2 separate regions of the Homo sapiens genome follow, and region 1 is linked to region 2. The links come from fine-mapping of genetic effects on gene expression. A gene starts in region 2. The other region holds a variant in brackets. All regions are shown on one strand. Distances are from middle to middle. Region 1 has its middle 14 kb from the start of ALOX5. Region 2 holds the start of OR13A1 (olfactory receptor family 13 subfamily A member 1).

Evidence for each region. PIP is the estimated chance that this variant, and not a neighbour inherited with it, causes the effect. A credible set is the group of variants that fine-mapping cannot tell apart.
Region 1: its variant is the best candidate, but not a certain one, in a credible set for the expression of OR13A1 in whole blood (TOPMed, PIP 0.55).

What each region holds. Positions count from the first base shown.
Region 1 is chr10:45,352,218-45,368,513 of GRCh38, reverse strand. No RefSeq gene overlaps it. Among named protein-coding and RNA genes, the nearest start is that of ALOX5, 14 kb to the left of the region's middle. The variant C/T (reference allele first, on the strand shown) is at 7,643.
Region 2 is chr10:45,307,898-45,324,193 of GRCh38, reverse strand. OR13A1 (olfactory receptor family 13 subfamily A member 1) reads left to right here and starts at 8,586. Exons shown (of 4, transcript NM_001004297.3): 1 at 8,586-8,670.

The sequences.
Region 1 (16,296 bases), 44 kb before region 2:
AGTCTAACAAGTGATCTCACTCTTTCTAAACTGCATTCTACTATCCTGTGTGAAAAAGGGAAATGGAAACTTCTTCACAGAATTAAAATTTAGATAAGAAAATCTAAACTTAAGGTTGTTATTTTTGCTATTTACTATTGTGATGTGGTATTACCCTGGCACCATGGAATGTGCGGAAGTGAAAGCCATCTGCTCCCCAGCCACTCCTAATGTTGGAAGGGGATTTATTTTAACAATTTGGTGTGTATGCCTGAATACTTTCCATGTGTATCCAGACACATAGTGCACATGCAGAGTTATATTAGGTATACCCATCTACAATTTGCTAGTAACATTTTCTTTTTTTCATTTTTATTATACTTCAAGTTCTAGGGTACCTGTGCACAAAGTGCAGGTTTCTTACATAGGTATAGATGTGCCCTGTTGGTTTGCTGCATCCATCAACTCATCATTTACATTAGGTATTTCTCCTAATGCTATCTCTCCCCCAGTCCACCACCCCCCAACAGGCCCTGGTGTGTGATGTTCCCTGCCCTGTGTCCAAGTGTTCTCATTGTTCAGTTCCCATCTATGAGTGAGAACATGCGGTGTTTGGTTTTCTGTCCTTGTCATAGTTTGCTGAGAATGATGGTTTCCAGCTTCATCCATGTCCCTGAAAAGGACATGAACTCATCCTTTTTTATGGCTGCATAGTATTCCATGGTGTATATGTGCCACATTTTCTTAATCCAGTCTATCATTGATGGACATCTGGGTTTGTTAGAAGTCTTTGCTATTGTGAATAGTGCCACAATAAACATTCGTGTGCATGTGTCTTTATAGTTGCACCATTTGTAATCTTTTCGGTATATACCCAGTAATGGGATTGCTGGGTCAAATGGTATTTCTAGTTCTAGATCCTTGAGGAATTGCCACACTGTCTTCAACAATGATTGAACTAATTTACACCCCCACCAACAGTGTAAAAGCATTCCTATTTCTCCATGTCCTCTCCAGCATCTGTTGTTTCCTGACTTTAATGATCGTCATTCTAACTGGTGTGAGATGGTATCTCATTGTGGTTTTGATTTGCATTTCTCTGATGGCCAGTGATGATGAGCATTTTTTCATGTGTCTGTTGGCTGCATAAATGTCTTCTTTTGAGAAGTGTCTTTTCATGTATTTTGCCCACTTTTTGATGGGGTTGTTTTTTTCTTGAACATTTGTTTAAGTTCTTTGTAGATTCTGAATATTAGCCCTTTGTCAGATGAGTAGATTGCAAAAATTTTCTCCCATTCTGTAGGTTGCCTATTCACTCTGATGGTAGTTTCTTTTGCTGTGCAGAAGCTCTTTAGTTTAATTAGATCCCATTTGTCAATTTTGGCTTTTGTTGCCATTGCTTTTGGTGTTTTAGACATGAAGTCCTTGCCCATGCCTATGTCCTGAATGGTAATGCCTAGGTTTTCTTCTAGGGTTTTTATGGTTTTAGGTCTGACATTTAAGTCTTTAATCCATCTTGAATTAATTTTTGTATAAGGTGTAAGGAAGGGATCCAGTTTCATCTTTCTACATATGGCTAGCCAGTTTTCCCAGCACCATTTATTAAATAGGGAATCCTTTCCCCATTTCTTGTTTTTCTCAGGTTTGTCAAAGATCAGACAGTTGTCGATATGCAGCATTATTTCTGAGGGCTCTGTTCTGTTCCATTGATCTATATCTCTGTTTTGGTAACAGTACCAAGCTGTTTTGGTTACTGTAGCCTTGTAGTATAGCTTGAAGTCAGGTAGTGTGATGCCTCCAGCCTTGTTCTTTTGGCTCAGGATTGACTTGGTGATGCGGGCTCTTTTTTGGTTCCATATGAACTTTAAAGTAGTTTTTTCCAATTATGTGAAGAAAGTAATTGGTAGCTTGATGGGGATGGCATTGAATCTGTAAATTACCTTGGGCAGTATGGCCATTTTCACAATATTGATTCTTCCTACCCATGAGCATGGAATGTTCTTCCATTTGTTTGTATCCTCTTTTATTTCGTTGAGCAGTGGTTTGTAGTTCTCCTTGAAGAGGTGCTTCACATCCCTTGTAAGGTGGATTCCTAGGTATTTTATTCTCTTTGAAGCAATTGTGAATGGGAGTTCACTCATGATTTGGCTCTCTGTTTGTCTGTTGTTGGTGTATAAGAATGCTTGTGATTTTTGTACATTGATTTTGTATCCTGAGACTTTGCTGAAGTTGCTTATCAGCTTAAGGAGGTTTTGGGCTGAGACAATGGGGTTTTCTAGATATAAAATCATGTCATCTGCAAACAGGGACAATTTGACTTCCTCTTTTCCTAATTGAATACCCTTTATTTCCTTCTCCTGCCTGATTGCCCTGGACAGATCTTCCAGCACTATGTTGAATAGGAGTGGTGAGAGAGGGCATCCCTGTCTTGTGCCAATTTTCAAAGGGAATGCTTCCAGTTTTTGCCCATTCAGTATGATATTGGCTGTGGGTTTGACATAGATAGCTCTTATTATTTTGAGATACGTCCCAGCAATACCTAATTTATTGAGAGTTTTTAACATGAAGTGTTGTTGAATTTTGTCAAAGGCCTTTTCTGCATCTATTGAGATAATCATGTGGTTTTTGTCTTTGGTTCTGTTTATATGCTGGATTACATTTATTGATTTGCATATGTTGAACAAGCCTTGCATCCTAGGGATGAAGCCTACTTGATCATGGTGGATAAGCTTTTTGATGTGCTGCTGGATTTGGTTTGCCAGTATTTTATTGAGGATTTTGGCATCAATGTTCCTCAAGGATATTGGTCTAAAATCCTCTTTTTTGGTTTTGTCTCTGCCCGGCTTTGGTATCAGGATGATGCTGGCCTCATAAAATGAGTTAGGGAGGATTCCCTCTTTTTCTATTGATTGGAATAGTTTCAGAAGGAATGGTACCAGTTCCTCCTTGTACCTCTGGTAAAATTCGGCTGTGAATCCATCTGGTCCTGGACTCTTTTTGGTTGGTAAGCTATTGATTATTGCCACAATTTCAGCTCCTGTTATTGGTCTATTCAGAGATTCAACTTCTTCCTGGTTTAGTCTTGGGAGAGTGTATGTGTCGAGGAATTTATCCATTTCTTCTAGATTTTCTAGTTTATTTGCATAGAGGTGTTTGTAGTATTCTCTGATGATAGTTTTTATTTCTGTGGGATCGGTGGTGATATCCCCTTTATCATTTTTTATTGCATCTATTTGATTCTTCTCTCTTTTTTTCTTTATTATTCTTGCTAGCGGTCTATCAATTTTGTTGATCCTTTCAAAAAACCAGCTCCTGGATTCATTAATTTTTGAAGGGTTTTTTTTGTCTCTGTTTCCTTCAGTTCTGCTCTGATTTTAGTTATTTCTTGCCTTCTGCTAGCTTTTGAATGTGTTTGCTCTTGCTTTTCTAGTTCTTTTAATTGTGATGTTAGGGTGTCAATTTTGGATCTTTCCTGCTTTCTCTTGTGGGCATTTAGTGCTACAAATTTCCCTCTACACACTGCTTTGAATGCATCCCAGAATTTCTGGTATGTTGTGTCTTTGTTCTCATTGGTTTCAAAGAACATCTTTATTTCTGCCTTCATTTCGTTGTGTACCCAGTAGTCATTCAGGAGCAGGTTGTTCAGTTTCCATGTAGTTGAGCAGTTTTGAGTGAGTTTCTTCATCCTGAGTTGTAGTTTGATTGCACTGTGGTTAGAGAGACAGTTTGTTATAATTTCTGTTCTTTTACATTTGCTGAGGAGAGCTTTACTTCCAAGTATGTGGTCAATTTTGAAATAGGTATGGTGTGGTGCTGAAAAAAATGTATATTCTGTTGATTTGGGGTGGAGAGTTCTGTAGATGTCTATTAGGTCTGCTTGGTGCAGAGCTGAGTTCAATTCCTGGGTATCCTTGTTGACTTTCTGTCTTGTTGATCTGTCTAATGTTGACAGTGGGGTGTTAAAGTTTCCCATTATTAATGTGTGGTAGTCTAAGTCTCTTTGTAGGTCACTCAGGACTTGCTTTATGAATCTGGGTGCTCCTGTATTGGGTGCATATATATTTAGGATTGTTAGCTCTTCTTGTTGAATTGATCCCTTTACCATTAAGTAATGGCCTTCTTTGTCTCTTTTGATCTGTGTTGGTTTAAAGTCTGTTTTATCAGAGACTAGGATTGCAACCCCTGCCTTTTTTTTGTTTTCCATTTGCTTGGTAGGTCTTCCTCCATCCCTTTATTTTGAGCCTATGTGTGTCTCTGCCCGTGAGATGGGTTTCCTGAATACAGCACACTGATGGGTCTTGAATCTTTATGCAATTTGCCAGTCTGTGTCTTTTAATTGCAGCATTTAGTCCATTTACATGTAAAGTTAATATTGTTATGTGTGAATTTGATCCTGTCATTATGATGTTAGCAGGTTGTTTTGCTCGTTAGTTGATGCAGTTTCTTCCTAGCCTCGATGGTCTTTACATTTTGGCATGATTTTGCAGCGGCTGGTACCGGTTGTTCCTTTCCATGTTTAGCACTTCCTTCAGGAGCTCTTTTAGGGCAGGCCTGGTGGTGACAAAATTTCTCAGCATTTGCTTGTCTGTAAAGGATTTTATTTCTCCTTCACTTATGAAGCTTAGTTTGGCTGTATATGAAATTCTGGTTTGAAAATTCTTTTCCTTAAGAATGTTGAATATTGGCCACCACTCTCTTCTGGCTTGTAGAGTTTCTGCCGAGAGATCCGCTGTTAGTCTGATGGGCTTCCCTTTGAGGGTAACCCGACCTTTCTCTCTGGCTGCCCTTAACATTGTTCCCTTCATTTCAACTTTGGTGAATCTGACAATTATGTGTCTTGGTGTTGCTCTTCTCGAGGAGTATCTTTGTGGCGTTCTCTGTATTTCCTGAATCTGAATGTTGGCCTGCCTTGCTAGATTGGGGAAGTTCTCCTGGATAATATCCTGCAGAGTGTTTTCCAACTTGGTTCCATTCTCCCCGTCACTTTCAGGTACGCCAATCAGATGTAGATTTGGTCTTTTCACATAGTCCCATATTTCTTGGAGGCTTTGTTCATTTCTTTTTATTCTTTTTTCTCTAAACTTTCCTTCTCACTTCATTTCATTCATTTCATCTTCCATCGCTGATACCCTTTCTTCCAGTTGATCGCATCGGCTCCTGAGTCTTCACGTAGTTCTCGAGCCTTGGTTTTCAGCTCCATCAGCTCCTTTAAGCACTTCTCTGTATTGGTTATTCTAGTTATACATTCTTCTAAATTTTTTGAACGTTTTCAACTTCTTTGCCTTTGGTTTGAATGTCCTCCCGTAGTTCGGAGTAATTTGATCATCTGAAGCCTTCTTCTCTCAGCTCGTCAAAGTCATTCTCCGTCCAGCTTTGTTCCATTCCTGGTGAGGAACTGCATTCCTTTGGAGGAGGAGAGGCGCTTTGCCTTTTAGAGTTTCTAGTTTTTCTGCTCTGTTTTTTCCCCATCTTTGTGGTTTTATCTACTTTTGGTCTTTGATGATGGTGATGTACAGATGGGTTTTTGGTGTGGATGTCCTTCTGTTTGTTAGTTTTCCTTCTAACAGACAGGACCCTCAGCTGCAGGTCTGTTGGAGTACCCGGCTGTGTGAGGTGTCAGTCTGCCTCTGCTCGGGGATGCCTCCCAGTTAGGCTGCTCGGGGGTCAGGGGTCAGGGACCCACTTGAGGAGGCAGTCTGCCCGTTCTCAGATCTCCAGCTGCGTGCTGGGAGAACCACTGCTCTCTTCAAAGCTGTCAGACAGGGACATTTAAGTCTGCAGTGGTTACTGCTGTCTTTTTGTTTGCCTGTGCCCTGCCCCCAGAGGTGGAGCCTACAGAGGCAGGCAGGCCTCCTTGAGCTGTGGTGGGATCCACCCAGTTTGAGGTTCCCAGCTGCTTTGTTTACCTAAGCAAGCCTGGGCAATGGCAGGCGCCCCTCCCCCAGCCTCGCCGCTGCCTTGCAGTTTGATCTCAGACTGCTGTGCTAGCAATCAGCAAGACTCCGTGGGCATAGGACCCTCCAAGCCAGGTGCGGGATATACTCTCCAGGTGCGCCGTTTTTTAAGCCCGTTGGAAAAGTGCAGTATTCAGGTGGGAGTGACCCGAATTTCCAGGTGCCATCTGTCACCCCTTTCTTTGACTAGGAAAGGGAACTCTCTGACCCCTTGCACATCCCGAGTGAGGCAACGCCTCACCCTGCATTGGCTCGCACACAGTGCGCGCACCCACTGACCTGTGCCCACTGTCTGGCACTCCCTAGTGAGATGAACCCGGTACCTCAGATGGAAATGCAGAAATCACCCGTCTTCTGTGTCACTCACGCTGGGAGCTGTAGACTGGAGCTGTTCCTATTTGGCCATCTTGGCTCCTCCCCCTTCTTCTAGATTTTCTAGTTTATTTATGTAGAGGTGTTTATAGTATTCTCTGATGGTAGTTTGTATTTCTATGGGATCAGTGGTGATATCCCCTTTATCTTTTTTTATTGAGTCTAATTTGATTCTTCTCTCTTTTCTTTATTATTCTTGCTAGCGGTCTATTAATTTTGTTGATCTTTTTAAAAACCAGCTCCTGGATTCATTGATTTTTTTGAAGTGCTTTTTGTGTCTCTATCTCCTTCAGTTCTGTTCTGATCTTAGTTATTTCTTGCCTTCTGCTAGCTTTTGAATGTGTTTGCTCTTGCTTCTCTAGTTCTTTTAATTGCGATGTTAGGTTGTTGATTTTAGTTCTTTCCTGCTTTCTCTTGTGGGCATTTAGTGCTATAATTTTCCCTGTACACACTGCTTTAAATGTGTCCCGGAGAATCTGGTATGTTGTGTCTTTGTTCTTATTGGTTGCAAAGAACATCTTTATTTCTGCCTTCATTTCATTATGTACCCAGTAGTCATTCAGGAGCAGGTTATTCAGTTTCCATGTAGTTGTGTGATTTTGAGTGAGTTTATTAATCCAGAGTTCTAATTTGTTTGCACTGTAGTCTGAGACACAGTTTGTTGTGATTTCTGTTCTTTTACATTTGCTGAGGAGTGTTTTACTTCCAATTATGTGGTCAATTTTAGAATAAGTATGATGTGGTGCTGAGAAGTATGTACATTCTGTTGATTTGGGGTGTAGAGTTCTGTAGATGTCTATTAGGTCCACTTGGTGAATAGCTGAATTCAAGTCCTGGATATCTTTGTGACCCTTCTGTGTCATTGATCTGTCTAATATTGACAGTGGAGTGTTAAAGTCTCCCATTATTATTGTGTGGAAGTCTACATCTCTTTGTACGTCTCTACAGACTTGCTTTATGAATCTGGGTGCTCCCATATTGGTTGCATATATATTTAGGATAGTTTGTTCTTCTTGTTGTATTGATCCCTTTACCATTATGTAATGGCTTTCTTTGTCTCTTTGGATCTTTGTTGGTTTAAACTCTGTTTTATCAGAGACTAGGATTGCAACCCCTGCTTTTTTTTTTTTTTTTTTTTTTTTTGGCTTTCCATTTGCTTGGTGGATCTTCCTCCATCCCTATGTGTGTCTTTGCATGTGAGATGGGTCTCCTGAATACCGCACACTGATGGGTCTTGACTCTATGCAATTTGCCAGTCTGTGTCTTTAATTGAGGCATTTAGCCCATTTACATTTAAGGTTAATATTGTTATGTGTGAACTTGATCCTGTCATTATG[C/T]TGTGAGCTGCTTATTTTGCCAGTTAATTGTTGCAGTTTCTTCATGTCATCGATGGTCTTTACAATGTGGCGTGTTTTTGCAGTGGCTGGTAACAGTTGTTCCTTTCCATGTTCAGTGTTTCCTTCAGGAGCTCTTGTAAGGCAGGCCTGATGGTGACAAAATCTCTCAGCATTTGCTTGTCTGTAAAGGATTTTATTTCTCCTTCACTTATGAAGCTTAGTTTGGCTGGATATGAAATTCTGGGTTGAAAATTATTTTCTTTAAGAATGTTGAATATTGACCCCTACTCTCTTCTGGCTTACAGGGTGTCTGCTGAGAGAGCTACTTTTAGTCTGATGGGCTTCCCTTTGTTGGTAACCCAACGTTTCTCTCTGGCTGCCCTTAACATTTTTTTCCTTCATTTCAACCTTGGTGAAGCTGACAATTATGTGTCTTGGGGTTGCTCTTCTTGAGGAATATCTTTGTGGTGTTCTCTGTATTTCTTGAATTTGAATGTTGGCCTGCCTTGCTAGTTTGGGGAAGTTCTCCTGGATAGTATTCTGAAGAGTGTTTTCCAACTTGGTTTCCTTCTCCCCATCACTTTCAGGTACACCAATCAAGTGTAGATTTGGTTTTTTCACATAGTCCCATATTTCTTGGAGGTGCTTTTCATTTCTTTTTACTCTTTTTTCTCTAATCTTATCTTCTTGCTTTATTTTGTTAATTTGATCTTCAGTCACTGATATTCTTTCTTCCACTTGATTTAATCAGCTATTTAAGCTTGTGCATGCATCATGATGTCCTCATGCCACGGTTTTCAGCTCCATCAGGTCATTTAAGTTCCTCTCTACACTGTTTATTCTAGTTAGCCATTTGTCTAACCTTTTTTGAAGGTTTTTTAGCTTCCTTGCAATGGGTTAGAACATGCTCCTTTAGTTTGGAGTAGTTTGTTATTACCGACCTTCTGAAGCCTACTTCTGCCAACTTGTCAAAGTCATTCTCCACCCAGCTTCATTCCGTTGCCGGTGAGGAGTTGCAATCCTCTGGAGGAGAAGCGGTGCTCAGTTTTTAGAATTTTCAGCTTTTCTGCTCTGGTTTCTCCCCATCTTTGTGGTTTTATCTACCTTTGGTCTTTGATATTGGTGACTACAGATGAGGTTTTGGTGTGAATGTCCTTTTTGTTGATGTTGATGCTATTCCTTTTTGTTTGTTAGTTTTCCTTCTAGCAGTCAGGTCCCTCAGCTGCAGGTCTGCTGGAGTTTGCTGGAGGTCCATTCCAGACTCTGTTTGCCTGGGTATCACCAGCAGAGGCTGCAGAACAGCAAATATTGCAGAAGAGCAAATATTGCTTCCTGATCCTTCCTCTGAGAGCTTTGTCCCAGAGTGGCACCCACCTGTATGAGGTGTCTGTCGGCCCCTATGGGGAGATGTCTCCCAGTTAGGCTACATGGAGTTTAGGGACCCACTTGAGGAGGCAGTCTGTCTGTTCTCAGAGCTCAGATGCCATGCTGGGGCAACCACTGCTCTCTTCAGAGCTGTCAGGCAGGGACGTTTAAATCTGCAGAAGTTGTCTGCTGCCTTTTGTTCAGTTATGCCCTGCCCACAGAGGTGGAATCTATAGAGGCAGTAGGCCTTGCTGAGCTGCGGTGGGCTCTGCCCAGTTTGAGCTTCCTGGCCACTTTGTTTACCTACTCAGTCCTCAGCAATGGCTGACACCCCTCCCCCCACCCAGCTGCAGCCTCGCAGGTTGATCTCAGATTGCTGTGCTAGCAGTGAGCCAGGCTCCGTGGGCATGGGACCTGATGAGCTAGGCTTGGGAGAGAATCTCCTGGTCTGCCGGTTGCTAAGACTATGGGAAAAGCACAGTATTTGGGTGGGAGTGAACCGATTTTCCAGGTACAGTCTGTCACGGCTTCCCTTGGCTAGGAAAGGGAAATCCCCCAATCACTTGTGCTTCCGGGGTGAGGTGACTCCTCACCCTGCTTCACCTCACCCTCCATGGGCTGCATCCATTGTCCAACCAGTCCCAATGAGATGAACCTGGTACCTCAGTTGGAAATGCAGAAATCACCCATCTTCTGTGCCAATCATGCTGGGAGCTGCAGACTGGAGCTGTTTCTATTAGGCCATCTTGGAGCAGAAGTCCAATTTTATTTATTTCTACTGTGATCTTTATTAGTTCTTTTCTTCTACTAATTTTGGGTTTGGTTTACTCTTGCCTTTTTAATTCTTTAAGATGCATCATCAGGTTATTCACTTGAAGTTTTTCTTCCTTTTTGATGTAGGCCCTTATCTGGAAATATCACTCTTGGTACTGCTTTTGTTGTATCCCATAGGTTCTGGTGCATTATGTTTCCATTGTCATTTGTTTTTAGAAAATTTTCAATTCAATTCATAATTTCTTCATTGACCCACTTATCATTTAGGAACATATTGTTTAATTTCCATGTTTTTGTATAGTTTCCAAAATTCCCCTTGTTATTGGTTTCTAGTTTTATTCCATTGTGGTCAAAGAAGATGCTTGAGATTATTTCAGTTTTTTTGAATGTTTTGAGACTTGATTCATGACCTAATATATGGCCTGTTCTTGAGAATGATGTATGTGCTAAGGAGAAAAATGTGTCTTCTGTAACCTTTGGATGAAATATTCTGTAAATACTTATTAGGCCCATTTGGTCTATAGTTCAGATTACATCTGATGTTTCCTTGCTGATTTTCTGTCTGGAAGATCTGTCCAATGCTGAAAGTGGAGCATTGAAATCTACAGCTATTATTGTTTTGGGGGAGGGGGTCTATCTTTCTTTAGCTCTAATAATATTTGTTTTATTTATCTAGGTGCTCCAATGTTGAGTGCATATATATTTACAATTGTTACATCCTCTTGCTTAACTGATCTCTTTATCATTATATAATGACCTTATTTGGTTTTTCTTAACAATTTTTGTCTTGAAATCTATTTAGTCTGATAAAGGTATAGCTACTCCTGTTCTTTTTTGGTTTCCATTGTCGTGAAGTATCATTTCCCATGACTTTATTTTTAGTCTGTGTATTGTTATAAGTGAAGTTTATTTCTTGTAGGTAACAGATCATTGGGTCCTTTTTTTTAATCCATTCAACCACTCTGTATCTTTTTACTGGAGAGTATAGTCCATTTACATTCAATATTATTATTGACAAATAAGGACTTGCTTGCCATTTTGTTATTTATTTTCTGGTTGTTTTGTGATCTTCTCTCCCATCTTTTCTTACTTCCTGTCTCCTTTTTAGTGAAAGTATTTTTTTTGGTGGTATGTTTTAATTTCTTGCTCTTCACTTTTTGTGTATACATTGTATGTTTTTAAATTTGAGGTTACTATGAGGCTTGCAAATACTATCTTATAACCCATTATTTTATGCTGATGAAAACAACACTGATTGCATAAATAAATACACAATCAAGCAAAAAGAAAACTAAAAAAACCTCTACATTTTAACTTTATTTATATGCTTTTAAGCTTTCTGTTATTTATATATCTTATTATACTGTCTTGAAAAGCTGTTGTAATTGTTTTTTAATCAGTTCATCTTTTCCTCTTTCTACTTATGATATAAGTAGCTTACACACCATAATTACAGTGTTATAATATTCTGTGTTTTTTGAGGACTTATTATCATCTGAAGGTACAGTGAGTTTTGTACCTTCAGATGATTTCCTGTTGCTTGTTAATGTTCTTTCTTTCAGATTGAACTCCCTTTAGTATTTCTTGTAAGACAGGTTTGGTGTTGATGAAATCCCTGTTTATTTGATTATTTTTCCTTCTGGTACAAATCTATTGTTCATTTCCTCTAGCAAAATGTTCTTATTGTTGTTATTTTACTTTTAAACCCCAGAATTTCCATTTGGTTAATTAACTTTTGAAAAAATATTTTTAATCTATTATTGGTATTTTTGAATTGACAAGAAATTATCATACCATCTTTTATTTTTTAAGCACATTTTCTTTTAGTTTTTGAACATATTTATAATAATTACTTTGAGGTTTTTTTTCTGCTATGTCTGACATCTTGGCACTCACAAAGGCAGTTTCTCTTGCTTACCTTTTTTCTGGTGTATGGCTCTGTCTTTTCCATATCTCTGCTTGACTCATAATTTTTTTGTTCAAAAATATGTTCTAGCTAGTTGCAATACTCATTTCTGCCCCCCTCACTATGTTACTGTTGTTTAATTGTTTATTTGTTTAATTGCCTGGCTAGACTATATAGTGAAGCCTATTTCCACCATAATTTGTGGCCTCTGATGTTGTTCCTGAGGGAGTCACAGCACTGGGCACATTTTCTCTCAAATTGGAATTACAGTGCATTTAGCAGTGCTCTCTTTGACTGCCTCTTTCTCTGATCTGTTCAGTTGTTTGCCTCTTTTGGTATCATACCCAACTGTTAACCTCCAGCAATTGCTAGATAATTGCTCTTTTGGTTTTGACAGCTTTTTAGGGGCATAAATTGCTCCACAGTCTGATCCAAATATATTTTGCTTCCTTTGCAGGAGCAGTTTTTCAGACAAGACTTTGATGTTTGTTTTAACCTCAGGAAGGCCCTTCTTGGCTCTCTCTTTCTTGGATTTTTATTGTATATGTCTAGCTGGTTTATGGTTTAGTTTGTTGCTCTCACTAAGCTGCCATTAACCTATTAATTGCTTACCACCAAAATATTCATTGTTTTTGACAGTGCCCTTAGGCTTGAACTTCCGCATGTTCTGTTGCAAATAAAGTTTGTCCCTTTAGGGAGAACTAGAGACTTTTCTTCTTATGGCCTACTTCTCCCTCTAGGCAGGTCCTCTAGTCTCCCTACTGCCTCTACTGCCACTACTCTGCAGGTGGTTTTGGGGACAGTGTCATGCTTTTCTCAGATGTCTTTCCTTCTTTATGGGTGGGGTACTGGATTGGGCAGTAATTTCTGTTTTTCTGCCTTTTCTGGAATGGAAACTTCACTCCTCCCATGGAATCTCTGCCCTATGAGTGTAGCGGAGCAAGGACATTCAGCATCAGTATTCTTGGCCCGTGGCACTGGGGATAGAACTTACGCCTTAATAGTAGAGGCTGAGTGGAAGAAGGAAGCTTCAGATTCTCAGTCAAACTTTCTTGGAATAGAACTTCTGCAACATAGAGCCAGAGATGGGCTTGGGAAATGCTGGTAGTCTGCCCTAGATTGGGAGCTGAGGGGAAAGGGCACCCTGTCTTTTTGGCTGCACATCTCTGGAGCAGGGTTTCTGTTTCACTGAACTGATTGCAGGAGAGGGAGGAAATGAACAGAACTTAAACACCATAGACTCAACACCATAGACTCTCACTCCTCTCACTGAAATTGGTAGGCTTTCTTGGATTTCTTCATTTGCTGTCGGCCCTTAGAACAATTTCCAATACTCTAACATTTTTTTATTTTGTTTGTTTTTAATTTTCACCGGTTATGGTTGTTTTACTCTGGAGAATGTCTGCAGAGCTCTTCAGATAGTCATTCTGTAAGTGCTTCTCTCATAATTGATTTCCAACACCTGAAGAGTGAATTCCCTTTTTCAGATGAAATCTTACAAGGAAGCAGATAAAAGTGGAGACATACTGGTTGAACATAAAGTGAACTAACAAACACAGGGCTGGAAGTTCTGATTGATTGACTTTTTTCTTGTTGTTTTTCCATATTCTCCTTCACCTTCATCTTCCAAGCCCTAGATGTAGATGAGAACACTGTTGGAGAATCATTTACCTTTGGGATGAAGTGGATCAGGTCCACTCAGATAGTACAGAATAATGTCCTTTAAATAGAGTCAACTGATTGTAGAGGTTAATTGCGACTACAAAATACCTTCACAGCAATACCTAGATCAGTGCTTGGTTGAATAGTTGAGTACTACAGCCTGACCAAGTTGACAAGCAAAACTGACAATCACACCATGCTTCAGCCACTGTGAAGAGCTTCAACCATGGTTTTTCCTGAGCAGTTTACATCTTCTCATTCCCATGAAATCTTGGCACATTTCCTTCCCTTCATCTGGAGTGCTGCTATCCTTCTCCTCTGTGTTCTAATCTCCTCCTGCACAAATGTTGCTTTTTCCGTGGAGCCCTCCATGACTCTTTCAGGCAGAGTGAGTTGCTCCTTTTCTGAGCTCCCACAACCTTTGTTTAAGCCCATATTTTGGCCCATCGTCACTTGTCCCACCAGTATTTGCTTCTGTCTCCATTCCCCCACCATATTCTGAGCTAACTGAGGGCAGGGACTATGTTTTATGTATTTCTTGATCTCCAGCCTGATGCCAGGAGAAAAGCAGCTGTAAATGTATCCTAGTAGGTAGGTTAAGTTTCCAGGGAGCCTGCAACTTGCTATGAAACTATCGTTTTTGTGGTTGGCAAAGCAGACACGCAGCATAAGGCTAAGCTCAAGAGAGCAACCCTAAGTTCCCCCCAGCTGACCGCATGATCTCCTGACTCATGGAGTGGAACTTGTGGCATGTCCACAGGAAGCCCTGGAGCCACTGTCCCCATGACAGCAGCAGGACAAATGTACTTCTTCAGCAGGACAAAATAGTGCTGGTCCTTTTGCTGGTCAGGAAAGTGACTTTCCTGACAGTCACTTTCCTCCAGAGGGTATCTTGTGTGACTACATCTTCTTTTGGCCAGCTTCAAACATTTATAGCCTATTTCAGTTTCTTCTGGCCTGTTTGCATAACTAAACAGAATTAAGCCCTGTCTACCACTGAGCACTAAAAAGAAAAACATATTCATTGGGGATTTAGAGAAAGAAAGAATAAGAAATCAATTGTCAAGACTCTATTTTCCCAGCTCTACTCTAGGACAGAGGAAGCTCATAGCCCTAACAGACTTTTCCTTAGGATGGATGTTGACAGCTCCTCCCAGCCCACTCCTTGTTTAGTTTTCATTTGTTCTATCCCAGGAAGATTCAGAGGAAGAGGGATACATCTTAAGATGTCTCTGTAACTTTGTAAGGATGCTGCTGAAAAGATAATGATGAAATGTTGATTGCAGCTTCTTTTTAAAAATTTTTATTGATACATAATATTTGTACATATTTATGGGGTACATATGGTATTTCGTTACACGCATAGACTGTGTAATGATCAAGTCAGGATATTTAGGGTATCCATTACCTCAAGCTTTTGTCATTTCTATGTGTTGGGAACATTTCAAATCTTCCTGTCTAGCTATTTTGGAGTATACAATATATTACTGTTAACTATAGTTCTCCTACTCTGCTGTCAAACATTAGAACTTATACCTTCTATCTAACTATATGTTTGTACCCATTAAGCAACCTCTCTTAACACCCCCACCCACAACTGTTCCCAGTCTCTGATAACCATCATTCTATTCTCCTTGAAATGCATGTTTTTAGTTCCCACATGAGTAAGAATATGCAACATTTGTGTTTCTACGCCTGGTTTATTTCCCTCCAGTTCCATTCATGTTGCTTATTGTGGCTTCTTGAGTCTGAGTTCAGAGCTGAGTCATTTTTGGGTGAGTTTCCCCTAATCTTCCACCTCCTTGTGCCTTTCAGAACAAGACCAGGCTTTTGCCTCTTGGCTTCTTTCCCTTCCTGCAAGGCTGTGCCATCAGAAGTAGGCAGGGCAGCCAATGCTATCTTTCCATGGCATGTGCTTTCTTAAGTAGATTTACCATCCATGGCTCAGTTCAACTACTCTGTTGCACTTAGGAAGTTAAGGAGCATTCTTCTCATTGGAACTTCTTGACTAAGTGGAAAGATACACTTCAATCCATGACACACACAAGACTCAAATAGGCTTGATGTATTTGTGATTAGTGTGAACTCAATTCTTGTTTTTTCAGAAGGAAGACCAATTCTCATACTCATCTTGAAACCCGTCTGACATTGTTCCTCCCAAGATTAGATAATCACGACAGAGCACCTCTACTCCTAACTGAACACGCATAAAATAAATAATTCCATCCCAGTCTGAGTGCGGGTCTCTCCCCAGAGGTCTACCCTGATTCTCTGCATGAAAGAGCCACTGGTTATTCTCCTCCCTTTATGCTGCGGGAGGCTAATTGCACTCACCACTACCTAGTACTGTTTTTAACTTTTCCTGTTTATTGCCTGTGTCTCCCACTAGAGGCTGAGTGATATGCGATGTGATCTTCTCAGTTTTGTTCACTTTTACATGTTATCCCCACAACAAGGTTTGTGGTGAGGCGTGGGTGGGAAAAAGGGAAATAATTCCTTCCTTCTTTCCTTCGTTCTGTCTCTCCTTTCTTTCTTTCTTTCTTTCTCTTTCTCTCTTTCTTTCTTTTTCTTTCTTTCTTTCTTTTTTTCTTTCTTTCTTTCTTTCTTCCCTTCTTTCTTTCTTTCTTTCTTTCTTTCTTTCTTTCTTTCTTTCTTTCTTTCTTTCTTCCCTTCTTTCTTTCTGTCTCTTTCCTTCTTTCTTTCTTTTCTTTCTTTCTTTTTCTTTCTTTCTTTCTTTCTTTCTTTCTTTCTTTCTTTCTTTCTCTCTCTCTCTTTCTTTCCTTCTTTCTTCTTCTTCTTCTTTTTTTTTTTTTTTTTTTTGAGACAGAGTTTCACTCTTGTTGCCCAGGCTGGAGTGCAATGGCACGATCTCGGCTCACTGCAACCTCCACCTCCTGGGTTCAAGTGATTCTCCTGTCTCAGCCTCCTGAGTAGCTGGGATTACATG
Region 2 (16,296 bases):
CATACCCATCATTGCTAGCGTTTAGAAAGACAACTGATTTTTATGTGCTGATATTGTACCCTGCAACCTTACTGAATTTACTAAATCTAGTAGTTTTTTGGTGCATCCTTTGGGATTTTCTATTAACAGAATCATGCCTTCTGCAAATGTAAGTAATTTAGCTGCTTCTTTTTAAATATGTATGCCTCTTATGTCTTTTTCTTGGCTATGTTCTTTTCTCTGGCTAGAACTTCTAGTACAATGTCCAGTGTCAGTGTTGAAAATGGGCATCCTTGTGTTGTTCCTGATTTTAGGAGTAAAGCTTACAGTTTTTCTACCCCTGAGTATGATTTTAGTTGTGAGATTTTCCTATATGCCCTTTATCATGCTAAGAAAGTTCCCTTTTATTTTAGTTTGCTGATTTTTTAAAATTATGAAAGGGCATTTAATTTTATCAAATACTTTTTTCTGTGTCTGTTGAGAGTTTGGCCATTTTTTTTCTATTGAAATGGTGTATTATGGTAGCTGATTTTTGGATGTGAAACCAACCTTGTGTCCTTGGGATAAATCCCATGTAATCATGGTGTATAATTCTTTCTATGTATTGCTGGATTTGGTTTGCTAGTATTTTGTTGGGAACTTTTGTGCCCATAAGATAAGAGGTATTGATCTATGGTTTTCTTTTCCTGTGATGTCTTTATTTGGTTTTTGTGTCAGGGAAATAGTGGCTTCATAAAATGTTCAAGAAGTGTACCCTCCTCATCTTTTTGTTGGAAGAGTGTGAAAAATTGGTATTATCAAATGTTTAGTAGAATTCACCAGTGAAGCCATTTGCTTTTCTTTTTGGGTAGTTTTTGATTACTGATTCATTCTCTTAATTTGTTTTAGGTCTATTCAGATTGTCTGTTTCTTCTTGAGTCAGTCTTGGTAGTTGTGTCTTTCTTGAAATTTTTTCATTTCACTTAAATTATCTTATTTGTCAGTGTACAATTATTTTTGGTATTCCTTTATAATCCTTTTTATTTCTTTAATGTCAGTAGTAATGTCTCTTCTTTTATTTCTGATTCTATAGTTTGAGTTTTCTCTCCTCTTTCCCTGATGAAACTGAAGTTTTTTCCATTTTATTGATTTTTTTCAAACGATCAAATTATTTCATTAATTTGTGCTGTTATCATTATTTCCTTCCTTCTGCTTACTTAAATTTAGTTTCATATTTTTTGTAAGTGTCTTAAGGTAGAATTTTAAGTTATTGATTTAAGAACTTTCTTAATACAAGTGTTTACAGCTGTTGATATTACTCTAATTACTTCTTTAGCTGCATCACAATTGTTTTGGTATGTTGTCTTCATTATTATTCGTCTAAAAATATTATCTAATTTCTGTCTTGATTTCTTCTTTGACTCATGAATTGTTTTAGAGTGGAAATTTCATTTTAAATTTCCAAATATTTGTGAATTTCCCAAATTTCCCCTGTTGTTGATTTCTAATTTTATTCCATTGTGGTTAATAACATACTTTGCATTATTTCTATCCTTCAAATTTATTGAGGTGTGTTTTATGGCCTAATATGTGGTCTATCTTCTAGAATGTTCCATGCTCACTTGACATGAATGTATACTTTGTTGTTGTTGTTAAGTAGAATGTTCCATAGTCCTTGAGGTCTATTTGGTTTGTAGTATTGCTCAAGTCCTCTTTTTCCTTGTTGATCCGTCCAGTTGTTCTATCCATTTTTGAACGTGTAGTATTGAAGTCCTTGACTATTTCTGTTGACTCGGTTGACTTGTCTATTTCTTTCTTTTCTCAGGTCTGTTTTTGTTTCATTTATTTTGGTGCTTCATATATATAGGTGCATATATGTTGATAACAGTTATATCTTCCTAATGGATGGATTCCTTTGTAATTACAAAAGGCCACTCTATCTCTAGTAACAATTTTTGTTTTAAAGTCTATTTGTCTGATATCAGTGTACTGACTCCAGTGTTTTTGTGGTTGCTGTTTGCATAATATATTTTTCCTGTTCTTTTACTTTCATTCTGTGTCTTCGAATCAAAATTGTGTTTTCTCCAGACAATATATACTTCATGTTTTCTTATCCAATATAACACCTTTGCCTTTTGATTGCATTGTTTATTCCATTCACACTGCATATTATTATTTAGTGGGATTTATGTCTGTCATTTTAGTTCTTTTTTGTTTTTGTTTTGAGACAGAATCTTGCTCTGTCACCCAGGCCGGAGTGCAGTGGCGTGATCTCGGCTCACTGCAAGCTCCAACTCCCGGGTTCAGGCCATTCTCTTGCCTCAGCCTCCCAAGTAGCTGGGACTACAGGTGCCCACCACCACTCGTGGCTAATTTTTTGTATTTTTAGTGGAGACTGGGTTTCACCGTGTTAGCCAAGATGGTCTCGATCTCCTGACCTCGTGATCTGCCCACCTCGGCCTCCCAAAGTGTTGGGATTACAGGCATGAGCCACCGCACGCCCGGATTTTTTGTTTTTTATATGTATCATGTCTTTGTTGTTCCTGTTTTGTCTTTACTTCTTTCTATTTCATTGAATTAATATTTTCTAATATAGTATTTAAGTTTTATTAATAATTTTATCACTGTATTTTTATTTTTAGTGGTTTCTCTAGGATTTTCTGTATATATCTTATCAGTATGAGTTTCAGATTCACACTAGCTTAATTCCAGTAATATGTAGAAATGTTACTCATGTAGAACTTAATTCTCTTGCTCTTTTGTGGTTATTTTATTTATATTATATCAATTAATGTTACAAAGATATACATTGTTTAAATTATTATTGGTGCTATTATTAGCATACATAACACCCACATATTAAAATTGTATATATTGCATATATGTATTATAGAATTGTATATATTATAGGGCCAATAGTATATTGTATACATGTTATTTTATATAATTGTTTTTAAAATGAGTTAAGAAAAAAGAAAAATGCATTTCTACTGTCTATTATAGAAAAATAATTACATCATACTGAACACGCAAAAACTGGAAGCATTCCTTTTCAGAACAGGAATAAGACAAGGGTGCCCTCTCTCCCCATTCCTCTTCAACATAGTACTGGAAGTGCTATCCAAAGCAATCAGGCAAGAGAAATAAATAAAAGGCGTCCAGATAGGAAAAGAAGAGAGAAAAGTATCTCTCTTTGTGGATGATATGATTCTATACATAGAAAACCCTAAAGACTCCAACAAAGCCTCCTGGAATAAACAAATGACTTCAGCGACGTTTCAGGATACAAAATGAATGTGCAAAAATTAGTAGTATTTCTATAAACCAATAACATTCAGGCTAAGAACCAAATCAAGACTGCAATCCCACTTACAATAGCCACAAAAAATTAAAATACCTAGGAATACAGCTAACCAAGGAGGTGAAAGATCTCTACAAGGAGAACTATAAAACGCTGCTAAAAGAAATCAGAGAGGACACAAATAAATGGAAAAACATTCCATGCTCAGGGATTGGAAGAATCAATATCATTAAAATGGCCATACTGCCCAAAGCAATCTATCTACAGATTCAATGCTATTATTACCAAACTACCAATGTCATTTTTTTATAGAATTGGAAAAAAGTGTCCTAAAATTCATATGGAACAACAACAACAGAGAGCCCAAAAAGCAATCCTAAGCAAAAAGAACAAAGCCAGAGGCATCACATTACCTGGCTTCAAACTATACTAATAAGACTACAGTAACCAAAACAGCATGGTGCTAGTACGAAAACAGATACCTACACCAGTTGAACAGAATAGAGAGCTGAGAAATAAATCTGCACACTTACAGCCATCTAATCTTTGACAAAGTTGCCAAAAGTAAACAATGGGGAAAGGACTCCCTAGTGAATGAATGGTCCTGGGATAGCTGACTAGCCATATGCAGAAAAATAAAACAAGACACCTAACTTTTGCCACATACAAAAATTAACTCCAGATGGATTAAAGATTTAAATATAAGACCTTGAAGTAAAAGAATCCTAGAAGAAAATCTCAGAAACACCATTCTGGACATGGGCCTTGGGAAAGAATTTATGATTAAGTCCTCAAAAGCAATTACAACAAAAACAGAAATTGACAAGTGAGACCTAATTAAACTGAACAACTTCTGTACAAGAAAAGACACTATCAACAGATTAAATAGATAACCTACAGAATGAGATAAAATATTTGCAAATTATGCACCCAACAAAGGACTAATATCCAGAATCTATAAATAACTTAAACAACTGGACAAGGAAAAAACAACCCCATTGAAAAATGGGCAAAAGATATGAACAGACACTTCTCAAAAGAAGACATACAAGTGGCCAACAAATGTATGAAAAAAGGATCATCATTACTAATCATCAGAGAAATGCAAGTCAAAAACCACCCATGGTAGCTAACGCATGCAATCCCAGCACTTTGGGAAGCCGAGGCAGGTGGGTCACCTGAGGTCAGGAGTTAGAGACCAGCCTTGCCAATATGGCTAAACCCTGTCTCTACCAAAAATACCAAAATTAGCTGGGTGTGGTGGCAGGTGCCTGTAACCCTAGCTTCTCAGTAGGCTGAGGTAGGAGAATCACTTGAACCCAGGAGGCAGAGGTTGCAGCGAGCCAACATTGTGCCACAGCCTAGGTGACAGAGTGAGACTCTGTCTTAAAAAAAAAAAAAGAAACCCCAATGGGCTACCATCTCACACATCAGAATGGCTATTATCAAAAAGTCAGAAAGCAACAGATGTTGGTGGAGCTGAGGAGAAAAGGGAATGCTCATGCATGGCAGTGGGAATGTCAATTAGTTCAGCCTCTGTGGAAAGCAGTTTGGAGATTTCTCAAAGAACTTAAAACAGAACTACCATTTGGCCCAGCAACCCCATTACTGGGTATATATCCAAAAGAGAACAAATTATTCCTCCAAAAAGACACATGCACTCACATGTTCATTGCAGTACTATTCACAACAGCAAAGTCATGGAATTGACCTAGGTGCCCACCAACAGTGAATTGGATAAAGAAAATGTGGTACATATACTCCATGGAATGCTATGCAGTCATAAAAATGAAGAAAATCTTCAGTGCCATCCCCATCAAGCTACCAATGACATTCTTCACAGAATTGGAAAAAACTACTTTAAAGTTCACGTGGAACCAAAAAAGAGCCCGCATTGCCAAGTCAATCCTAAGCCAAAAGAACACAGCTGGAGGCATCACGCTACCTGACTTCAAACTATACTACAAGGCTACAGTAACCAAAACAGCATGGTACTGGTACCAAAACAGAGATATAGACCGATGGAACAGAACAGAGCCCTCAGAATTAATGCCACTTATCTACAACTATCTGATCTTTGACAAACCTGGCAAAAACAAGAAATGGGGAAAGGATTCCCTATTTAATAAATGGTGCTGGGAAAACTGGCTAGCCATATGTAGAAAGCTGAAACTGGATCCCTTCCTTACACCTTATACAAAAATTAATTCAAGTTGGATTAAAGACTTACATGTCAGACCTAAAACCATAAAATCCTTAGAAGAAAACCTAGGCAATACCATTCAGGACATAGGCATGGGCAAGGACTTCATGTCTGAAACACCAAAAGCAATGGGAACAAAAGCCAAAATAGACAAATGGGATCTAATTAAACTAAAGAGCTTCTGCACAGCAAAAGAAACTACCATCAGAGTGAACAGGCAACCCACAGAATGGGAGAAAATTTTTGCACCTACTCATCTGACAAAGGGCTAATATCCAGAATCTACAATGAACTCAAACAAATTTACAAGCAAAAAACAAACAACCCCATCAAAAAGTAGGCAAAGGATATGAACAGACACTTCTCAAAAGAAGACATTTATGCAGCCAAAAAACACATGAAAAAATGCTCATCATCACTGGCCATCAGAGAAATGCAAATCAAAACCACAGTGAGATGCCATCTCACACCAGTTAGAATGGCGATCATTAAAAAGTCAGGAAACAACAGGTGCTGGAGAGGATGTGGAGAAATAGGAACACTTTTACACTGTTGGTGGGACTGTAAACTAGTTCAACCATTGTGGAAGTCAGTGTGGCAATTCCTCAAGGATCTAGAACTAGAAATACCATTTGACCCAGCAATCCCATTACTGGGTATATACCCAAAGGACTATAAATCATGCTGCTATAAAGACACATGCACACGTAGGTTTATTGTGGCACTATTCCCAAGAGCAAAGACTTGGAACCAACCCAAATTTCCAACAATGATAGACTGGATTAAGAAAATGTGGCACATATACACCATGGAATACTATGCAGCCATAAAAAATGATGAGTTCATGTCCTTTGTAGGGACATGGATGAAGCTGGAAACTATCATTCTCAGCAAACTATTGCAAGGACAAAAAACCAAACACCTCATGTTCTCACTCATAGGTGGGAATTGAACAATGAGAACACATGGACACAGGAAGGGGAACATCACACACTGGGCACTGTTGTGGGGTGGGGGGCTGGGGGAGGGATAGCATTAGGAGATATACCTAATGCTAAATGACGAGTTAATGGGTGCAGCACACCAACATGGCACATGTATACATATGTAACTGACCTGCACGTTGTGCACATGTACCCTAAAACTTAAAGTATAATAATAAAAAAAAATAAATAAAAATAAAAAATAAAAGAAAATGAAGAAAATCATGTCATTTGCAGCAACATGGATTTGGCTAGAGGACTTTATCCTAGGCAAACAAATACAGAAACAGAAAATCAAATACCACATATTCTCACTCATAAGGGGGAGGTAAACACTGGGTACTGATGGACATAAAGATAGCAACAATAGACACTGGGGACTATTGGGGTGGTGAAGGAGGGAAGGGAGAAAGTGTTGAAAAACTGTTGAGTACTATTCTCAGTATCTGGGTAATGGGACCATTCATACCCCAAACCTCAACATCACACAATATACCCAGGTTACAAACTTGCACAAGTGCCCTCTGAATCTAAAATAAAAGTTGAAAAAGCAAAAATAAAACAGTAAACAACAACAACAACAAAACAGCAAAACCCTCAATAAATACATAAATAAAAATATAAATAAATGTCTTTGCCAGAGCTTTTTGTTTTTTGTGTGGCTTTGAGTTAGTATCTGGGGTCACGTTGCTTTTAAGCTGTTTGCTATCAACTGCATCCTATCTAATATTTCTTTTTCTTAATAGTAAACCACTCAATTTTTGTGAGGAGATATTACATTGTGGTTTTGATTTACATTTCTCTAATGATTTCCTTTCCAGTTTGGATGCTGAGCATTTTTTCTTATGTTTTTTGCCCATTCATATATAATTTTAAAAGAAATGTCTATTCAAATCCTTTTGCCATTTTAAAATCATATTATTTTTAAATATTGTGTTGTAGAAATTATTTATATATTCTGGATATTAACTCTTTATCAGATATATAATTTACTAATATTTTCTTCCATCCACAAGTTTTTTTTAACATTGTTATGTCCTTTAATGCATAAAAGTTTTAAAAAGTTTGATGTAGTCCCAATTGTCTATTTTTTCTTTTGTTGTCTGTACTTTTGGTGTCATATTAAAAAATAATTGCCATATCCCCTTATTCTAAGAGTTTTATAGTTTTAGATCTTCCATTTAAGTTTTAAATCCATTTTGAGTTAATTCTTGTATATGGCATAAGACAAAGTTTCAACTTCACTCTTTCATGTGTGGATATCCAAGTTTCCCAACACTGTTTGTTGAAGAGAATGTTCTTCCCTCATTGAGCGGATCTGGAATGCTGTAAATATTATTTGACCATATATGTGGAGTTTTCTTTTAATGGGTTCTTTATTCTATTCCATTGGTCTATATGTCTCTCTTTAAGCCAGTGTCATGCTGTTTTAATTACTGTAGTCTTGTAACATGTTTTGAGATCACGGAGCATGAGACCTTCAACTCAGTTAGTTTTCAAGATTGTCTAGTCAGAGTATATATGAATATTTAGATAAATTTTTCTCTTTTTTCAAAAAATGCAGCTTAGATTTTGATAGGGATTACATATAATTTGTAGACTGCTTTGGGTTCTATTGACTTTTCAAATTAATACATAATGTTGTACAGATTTGGGGAATACATCTGATATTTTGGAGATCTTAACATTAAATCTTCCAATCCATGAATACCAATGTCTTTACATTTATTTGTGACTTCTTTCAGTACTGTTTTGTAGTTTTCAGTGTACAAGCCTTTTATTTCCCTGGCTAAGTTTATTCCTAAGTATTTTACTATTTTTGATGGTATTGTAATTAAATTATTTTCTTAATTACCTTTGGATTGTTTATAGTTAATTTATAGAAAGGCAACTGATTTTTGTGTGTCGATTTTGGATCCTGCAACTTTCCAGAATTTGTTTAATAGTTCCAACAGTTTTCTGGATTTTATGCATATATGCATCTAACAGTTTTCTAGATTTTATGCAGGAGTCTAGGATTTTATGCATATAGGATCAAGTCATCTGTGAGCAGAGATAATTTTACTTTTTTCTTTTATTCTTTGGATGTCTTTTCTTGCTTAATTTTTTTTTCCTAATTGGTCTGCTTGGAAATTCAAATACTATATTGAATAGAAGCGAAGAGACAGAGTATACTTGTCTTGTTCCTAATCCAGAAGAAAAGTTTGAATCTTTTACCATTGAGTGTAAGTTTACCTGTGGATTTTTCATATATGGCCTTTATTATGTTATTTTCCTTCTATTCCTAGTTTGCTGAGTGTTTTCGTGATAAAAGGTGTTAAATTTTGTTAAACATTTTTTCTACATCAATATAAATGATCATGCTGTTTTGTCCTTTATTCTATTACTATAGTGTATTACATTGATTTTTGCATGTTGTATTATTCTTTTTTTTTGAGATGAAATCTCATTCTGTCATTCTGGCTGGAGTGCAGTGGCATGACCTCAGCTCACTGCAACATTTGCCTCCTGGGTTCAAGGGATTCTCCTGTCTCAGCCTCCCAAAGTGCTGGGATTACAGGCATGAGCCAGCACACCCTGCCACATGTTCTATCATTCTTGCATTCCAGGAATAAAGCCAACCTGATCATCACAAATATTGGTCTGTAGTTTTCTTTTCATGTAATGTCTTTGTTTGACTTTGAAATCAGGGTAATACTGGCCTCATATAATGAGCTTTGAAGTGTTTTTTATATTCATTTTTGTAAATGACTTTGAGAAACATTGGTTCTAATTCTTCCTTAAATGTTTGGTAGTCATCCGGTTCTGGGCTGTTGTTTGTTTGGAGGTTTTTGAACCAGTTTAATCTCCTTCGTAGTTATAAGTCTGTTCGTTTTTTCTACTTCTTCATGATTCACTCTTATTAGGTTGTATATTTCTAGAAATTTATGCACTTCTAAATTATCCAATTTGTTGACATATAATTAACTGTTGATGGTATTTTCTTATAATCCTTTTGATTTCTATGGCATGGGTTCTAATGTTCTCTTTTTTATTTCTGATTTATTAGTTGAATCTTTTTTCCTTAGTTAATCTAGCTAAGCATTTGTTAATTTTGTTGGTGTTTTCAAAAACCACCTCTTAGTTTTGTTGATTTTTTTCTATTGTTTTTATATTCTATATTTCATTTATCTCTGATTTAATCTAATCTTTAGGATTTTCCTCCTTCTGCTAGCTTTGGGTGTAGTTTTTTTTCTCTCCTAGTTTCCTGAGGTATAAAGTTAGGTTGTTGATTTGCAAACTTTCTTCTACTTCTTTTTTTTTTTTTCTTAAGTTGTGGAGATGGGGTCTTGCTTTGTTGCCCAGGCTGGTCTCAAATTCCTGGCCTCCAGAAGTTCTCCTCCCTCAGCCTGTCAAAGTGCTGGGATTGCAGGCATGACCCACCATGCCTAGCCACTTTCTTCCTTTTATAATGCACATATTTATAGCTATAAAATTCTCTGTTAGCACTGCTTCTGCTGCATCTTACACATTTTGGTACATTGTATTTTTATTTTCCTTTATCTCAAGATATTTTCTAACTTCCCTTGTGATTTCTTTTTTGACCCATTGCTTGTTGAAAACTGTGTTGTTTAATTTTCACATATTTGTGAATTTTTTGTTTTCCTTCTGCTACTGATGTCTAGTTTTATGTCATTTTCATCAAAATAGATATTTTGTATAATTTCAATCTTTTAAAATTTGTTACAAGTTTTTTTGTGGTATAACATGTGATTTATCTTTGGGAATATTCCATGTAAACTTGAGAAAAATACTATTCTGATTTTATTGGGTGGAATGTTCTGCACATGTTTGTTAGCACTATTTATAGTGTTGTTCAAGTACTGTATTTCCTTATCGATTTTCTGTCTTGTTGTTCTAGCCATTATTGTAAGTGAGGAATTGAAGTCGCCTACCATTATTATGCTGTTTATGTTTCCTCTCTGATCTGTCAATGTTTGCTTCAGATATTTAGGAGCTCTGGTATTAGAGGTATATATATTTGTAATTGTTATATCTTTCTGCTGAATTGACTTTTTGTTATATAATATCCATTTTTTTGTCTTGTGACTATTTTTGACTTTAAGTCTATTTTGTTGGATAGTAGTATAGTCACTTCTGCTTGCTTTTATTTACCATTTGCATGGCATTTACTTTTCCTTTTTTTCATTTTAAGCATATTTGTTTCTTAGACCTAAATGACAGGATAAAGTTGGATCCTTTTTACAAATCCATTTTCCAGTCTATATCTTTTGATTCAGGAGTTTAATCCATTTACATTTAAAGTAATTACTGATAGGGAAGGACCTACACTTGCCATTTTGTTGTTTCCTGTATGTTTTGTAAATTTTGTTTTTTATTCCTTCTCTTACTGACCTCTTTTGGGTTTTGTCGATTTTTTTTTGTGGTGACATTTTGATTCCCTTCCTGTTTCCTTTTGTGTGTATTCTATAGATTTTTTTATGGTTACCATAAGAATTATAAAAAACATCTTAAAGTGTTAACAAGCTATTTTAAACTGTTAAGAGAATAACTTCGACTGTGTACAAAAACTATTTCTTCAAAGCTCCTACCCTCACCTTAGGTTACTTATGTCACAAGTTACATCTTCATATGTAATGTATTCATTAACACAGTTTTATAGTTATTTTTAAGCTTTTGTCTTGTAAATTCTATACAAGAATTAAAAGTGCATTTATGTACCAAAACTGCATAGTACAGTCTCTATATATGTCCATATATTTATCTTTACTGGAGAGCTTTATATTTTCATAAGACTTCATGTTACTATTTAGCATCCTTTTGTTTCAACTTGCAAGATACTACAGCAGGTCCAGTGGTAATGAACTCCCCAGTTTTTGTTCATCCTGGAAAGGCTGATTTTTCCTTTATGTTTGAAGGATGGTTTTGCTGGATATAATATTTTTGGTTGAAATTTTCTTTTCTTTCAGCTCTTTGAATATATTATCCCCCTGCCTTCTGGCCTGCAAGGTTTCTGTTGATAAATCCACTGATAATTTTATAAAGGCTTCCTTTTACATGACAAGTTACTTTCTTTTGCTGCTTTCAAGATTGTCTCTTTGTCTTTGACTTTTGAGAGTTTGATTATAGTGTGTCTCACTGTGAGTCTCTGGGTTTTCTTTAACATTTTTTTTTTGTTCATATCTTCTGATGATGAATTCCTTTAACTTTTATATTTGTGAAATGTTTTTTCTTCATTTTCAGAAGGTATTTTTAGTGAGTGTAAAATTCTACATTGACAGTTTTTTTCTTTCAGTACTGTTTAGTGTTTCTCTACTGTCTTCTTGCTTGTACTGATTGTATAGAAACTCTGCTGTAATTCTTATCTTTGTGTCTTTGTACTTAATGTGCCTTTTTACTCTGCCTGTTTTTAAGATTTTATTTTTATTATTGATTTTGATCATGTGGCTTGGTGTGAGTTTCTTCATATTTATTGTGCTTGGGGTTCATTGAGCTTATTAAGTCTGTAGGTTTATATTTTTCATTACATTTAGAAAAATTGTAGCCATTATTCATTCAAATTTTTTTCTGTTCTTCTCCCATTTCTCATGCCCTTATGGGGTCTAATTATATGTATATTAGGCTATTTGAGGTTGTCTTACAGCTCACTTACAGTTCTTATGTTTATTTTTCCACTTCTATTTCATTTGGGCAGGTTTATTATACTTTTCCCTAATTTGCTAATTTTTTTGCAATGTCTAATCCACTGTTAATCTCATCCAATGTATTATTAATTTCAGACATTGTAGTTTTCATCTCTAGAAATTGTTCATCTTTTTATATCTTCTTTGTCTCTATTTGATATGCTAAGTCTTTTCTCTAGCTTCTTGAGCATATGAAATATAGTTATGACAACTATTTTATTTTATTACAACTTTTACCTTAGGTTCAGAGGTACATGTGCAGGTTTGTTATGTAGGTAAACTCGTGTCACAGGAGTTTGTTTATTATTTCATCACTCAGGTACTAAGCCTAGTACCCAATAGTTGTTTTTCTGTTCCTCTCCCTTCTCCTACCCTCCAACTTCAAGTAGGCCCCAGTGTTTATTGTTCCTCTCTTTGTATCACTACTATTTTAATGTCTCTACTAGTTCTCTTATTTTTGTCATTTCTGAGTTGATTTTATTTTTCTCACTATGGCCATATTCTCCTACTTCTTTGAATATCTGGTATGCAAATTATACCTAGTATGGATATTATATCAAGACCCTGTCGCAATATGGATACCTAAAAGAAAATAACAATGTTTACCAGTTTGCTCTAAGCCTTTCTTAGCTCTTTTGCTTGTTTCTCAAGAACAAGCACAGAGGGTGGAGCTCAACCAAGACTGAAGTTAAAGATGTAGAAAGATTGAGATGGGAAGTAATTAAGTTGAGGAGCTCTGATACAATGGTATTTCTCTTTTTAATCATGTAAGATGCAAGCCCAAGATAATATGTTGGGAAAGTTGAAGGCGAATGTCTTGAGAAATATGAAATGCACCCAAGGCTATGGCTGGGTGATAGAAATAACTAAAAAGTTTTAAAAGGATTGTTTTATAGCTGGTCCTTGCTGAGGTTAGGGGATAGGCCTGGAAAAATTGAGCAGTGGTATTGCCCAGGCAGGACTCCTCATGACATTCTCCAGATCCCTAAGTTTTTCCAAGTTTCCAAGCATTTCCTTGGCCAGCAAGTCATCTCGCAGCACAGATCCTACTCTCTTTCAGTCAGTCATTCCACAACTCTACAAAGCATTTTTCTCCATCAAATGGGAACTTTTGGGGTTCTGCATAATTTTTCAGGGTTCCACCACTTTTGACTCTTTCTGGATACCTTGTAAGGATATTATAACTCTTTAATTCATGTCCTTGATTTTCTCTTTTAACTTTTAATACTGTTCATTGCCTGTTTACCTCTTTCACCCTCTTCTTTTCACTTCCGCCCTCTTTCTTGTGTAAGTATATAATCATCCTTTTTTTCTTCCTCGAATCTCAGTTCTCGGGAGTAACATATACAATTCATTCTTACTTCCAGTCTTTTATTCCTAAGTTCCTTATCTCTAGTTCTCTTGCATATTTGTGGCAATTATTAGTTTTTTTCCAAAAATCCATTCTCCCTTTTTCCTGTACATGTATCTTTCCAGCTTGACCACATTTCCCAGCTTCCCTGGCAGCTAGGTGAAGCAATGTAACTAAACTTTTGCCTGTAAAATATGAGCAGAAGTTATGTGCACAATATCTGCCTCACTTGCTTAAAATAAATTGTATTATTTGAGCTTTCTATATTGTCCCTTTTTACAACTAAAATGTAGAGGTTATGGCAACTTTTATGGTAAAGAGAATCATCACGTAGGAGATCAAGAATCATTGATTTGAGAGGAACCTAAATCCTTTAATGACTTAGTGGAGCAAGACTGCCCCATCAGTCTGGAAGCTACCCCACAACTTATGTATATCTTCAGATTGTTGAGCAAAAGAGAAAAAATGAAGCCACTATATATTTAGGTCTCTTCATGTTAACAGTTTAGCTTTTAACCTAACACACATTTATTCCTGAATGGTAGCATATTATTAACATCACAGGAAGGGAATTCCTTGTTCATGGATCTTTTATTTTGTTGAAATAAAGGTAATCTGCTTGGGCTTAATACTGCCAAGGCAGAATTTTTTGGAATAATTATTTCTATAGATGACCCATTCATAATGACAACTAACATGGTTTCTAAAATGGATTCATGTACGTCATCTTATTTAGTCCCCGCAAAAATTCTGAAGGTAGGTATAATTATTCCCATTCTATATATTGAAAAATTGGGATTCAGAGAGACTACGGACTTATACAAGTTTCTGCAGCTATTTAAGAAACAGAGTAAAGTCTCAAAGCCATTAATGAACTGTTTAGTTTAGTGCTGCTTAGTAAAATTAGAACTGTTTGAAGTGCGTTTTAATAGTAAACCCATCGATATTTAGTCAGCTCTCTGCTTGCTAACTAATATGGAAGAAAAAACATACATCTACGTACATCCTGAATTGGGAGAAGGGAAATAAAATATTGCCAATCCCCTTTCCTGTATTAGGTACTGTGATAAGGCGATAAGGCTTTTCATTATTATAAATGAGTCCTGGAGAGGTTAAGCGCAGTCACCCAAAGTCACATGACCAGTAACTTTCAGAGATTTTACCCCAGGTCTGGAAAGACTCTGAAGCCCATGTTATTGCCTCCAGAGCCTGGTGGAGAACCCCTGAATGGGACAGAGACTCAGCAGACAGAGTGGTCCTTTCCTTCCAGGGAGTCAGGGAAGGTTTGGTAGGGGAGATAGAGTTAGATCTGGGTGGGATTTGGATGAAATGAGATCAAGCAGGGATAAATAAGATCCAAGCTGTTTATGAGGGACAGGGAGAGGCCAGCTCTGTTAGAAAGAGTGGTTTATACAGAGAAGCATGGAAACATTTGCTCCATGCCTCGCCTTCCATGGATAGCAGTCCAGAAATGCTACTTGCCTGCCTGACAGTCTTTCTCCAGTCCCCAGGTGTGGACACGTTCTGAGCACCTGAGCCTGGGTCTGCCCTGACCCAGATTCTGTGAGCTGGGACAGAGAATGTGTCCTGCTGTCCCTCCTCCCCCACTTGGGCCCACACCCTTTTCTACACATTTGGATTAGAAATCTGAATTGGCCTTTCTGTGAACCCCAATGACAGGCAAGTCCCCAGTAAAGAAGCACTTAATTTAATTGCTCCTTCAGGGTCCACTTAGAGTAATAGTTGTGAACAGCTCTCCCTAGTGTCTCCCACAGGCAGTGACAAATGTTGCTAAAGATAAGTCACAAATTCTTGGCAAGGCCATCTTAAATATGGGAAGGAAACCTTGTTCAGTCCTGAACAGTCCTGTTCAGACTGATCTTATCACAGGTTGCACACTGCCTCAATGTCACCATGTTTCTACCCTCAGTTGTGCTTGGCAGAGAGAGGACAGCTATACATAAAGTCTGTTCACTCTACAAAGGTGAAATCATTTTTTTTAAGGTAATTATGATTGTTCTGAGGATGGTGATTGAGTGACATTTAAAAAATGGGAAAAGTTCTACTCATAACTCTGTCTGCTTAATTTGCTTATATAAAAGACTTAATGGTTTTTGTTGAGTTGATCCAGAGTCAGTAACATTTGAATATGTGTTATTACCATTTGATCAGTAACAAAACAACAGGGTAAGTGGGATGCCAAATGTGGCTGAGAGTTTAGGGTTTACATTCCACACCCCAGCCTTAAATACGTTTGTATAAATTATTGGTTGATTTTTCTTTTTCATGGCTTTTCTTTGACATTTGATGGGGCTGGATTTATGGAGGCAACCAACAAATTACACAGCAATGAATTCTGGACTGTAGTCCCACAGCCTTGAGCCTAGATACTAGCTGTGTCACTAATACTCTGTGTGACCAGGGTAAGTTATTTAGATACATTTATGACTTTCCAAATCAATAGGTTGGACAAAGTTATCTTCAAAATGTCTTTCAGATTTGACCCTGAACATATGCGATTCTGGCATGTTCTGATTTTTAGTTTTCTGTTCTTGAAGCATGTCTACAATAGAAATGCCTACCTTCATATACAATAAAAGGACATTAGATTAATATGGTGTCTGTGAAAATCATTGAACAGCTTTAGAGATAAAAATAATGAAATGAGTCAAGTTCTCCATTATTAATTAAATCTTTTAAATTTTCTGTTTATGAAACTATGAACAATAAATTGGAACAAAGATATAATCTCACTACAAGTAAATTGTATTTTATGTAAAATATAATTTGTCTTTAGAAAATACTCAATGAAATTA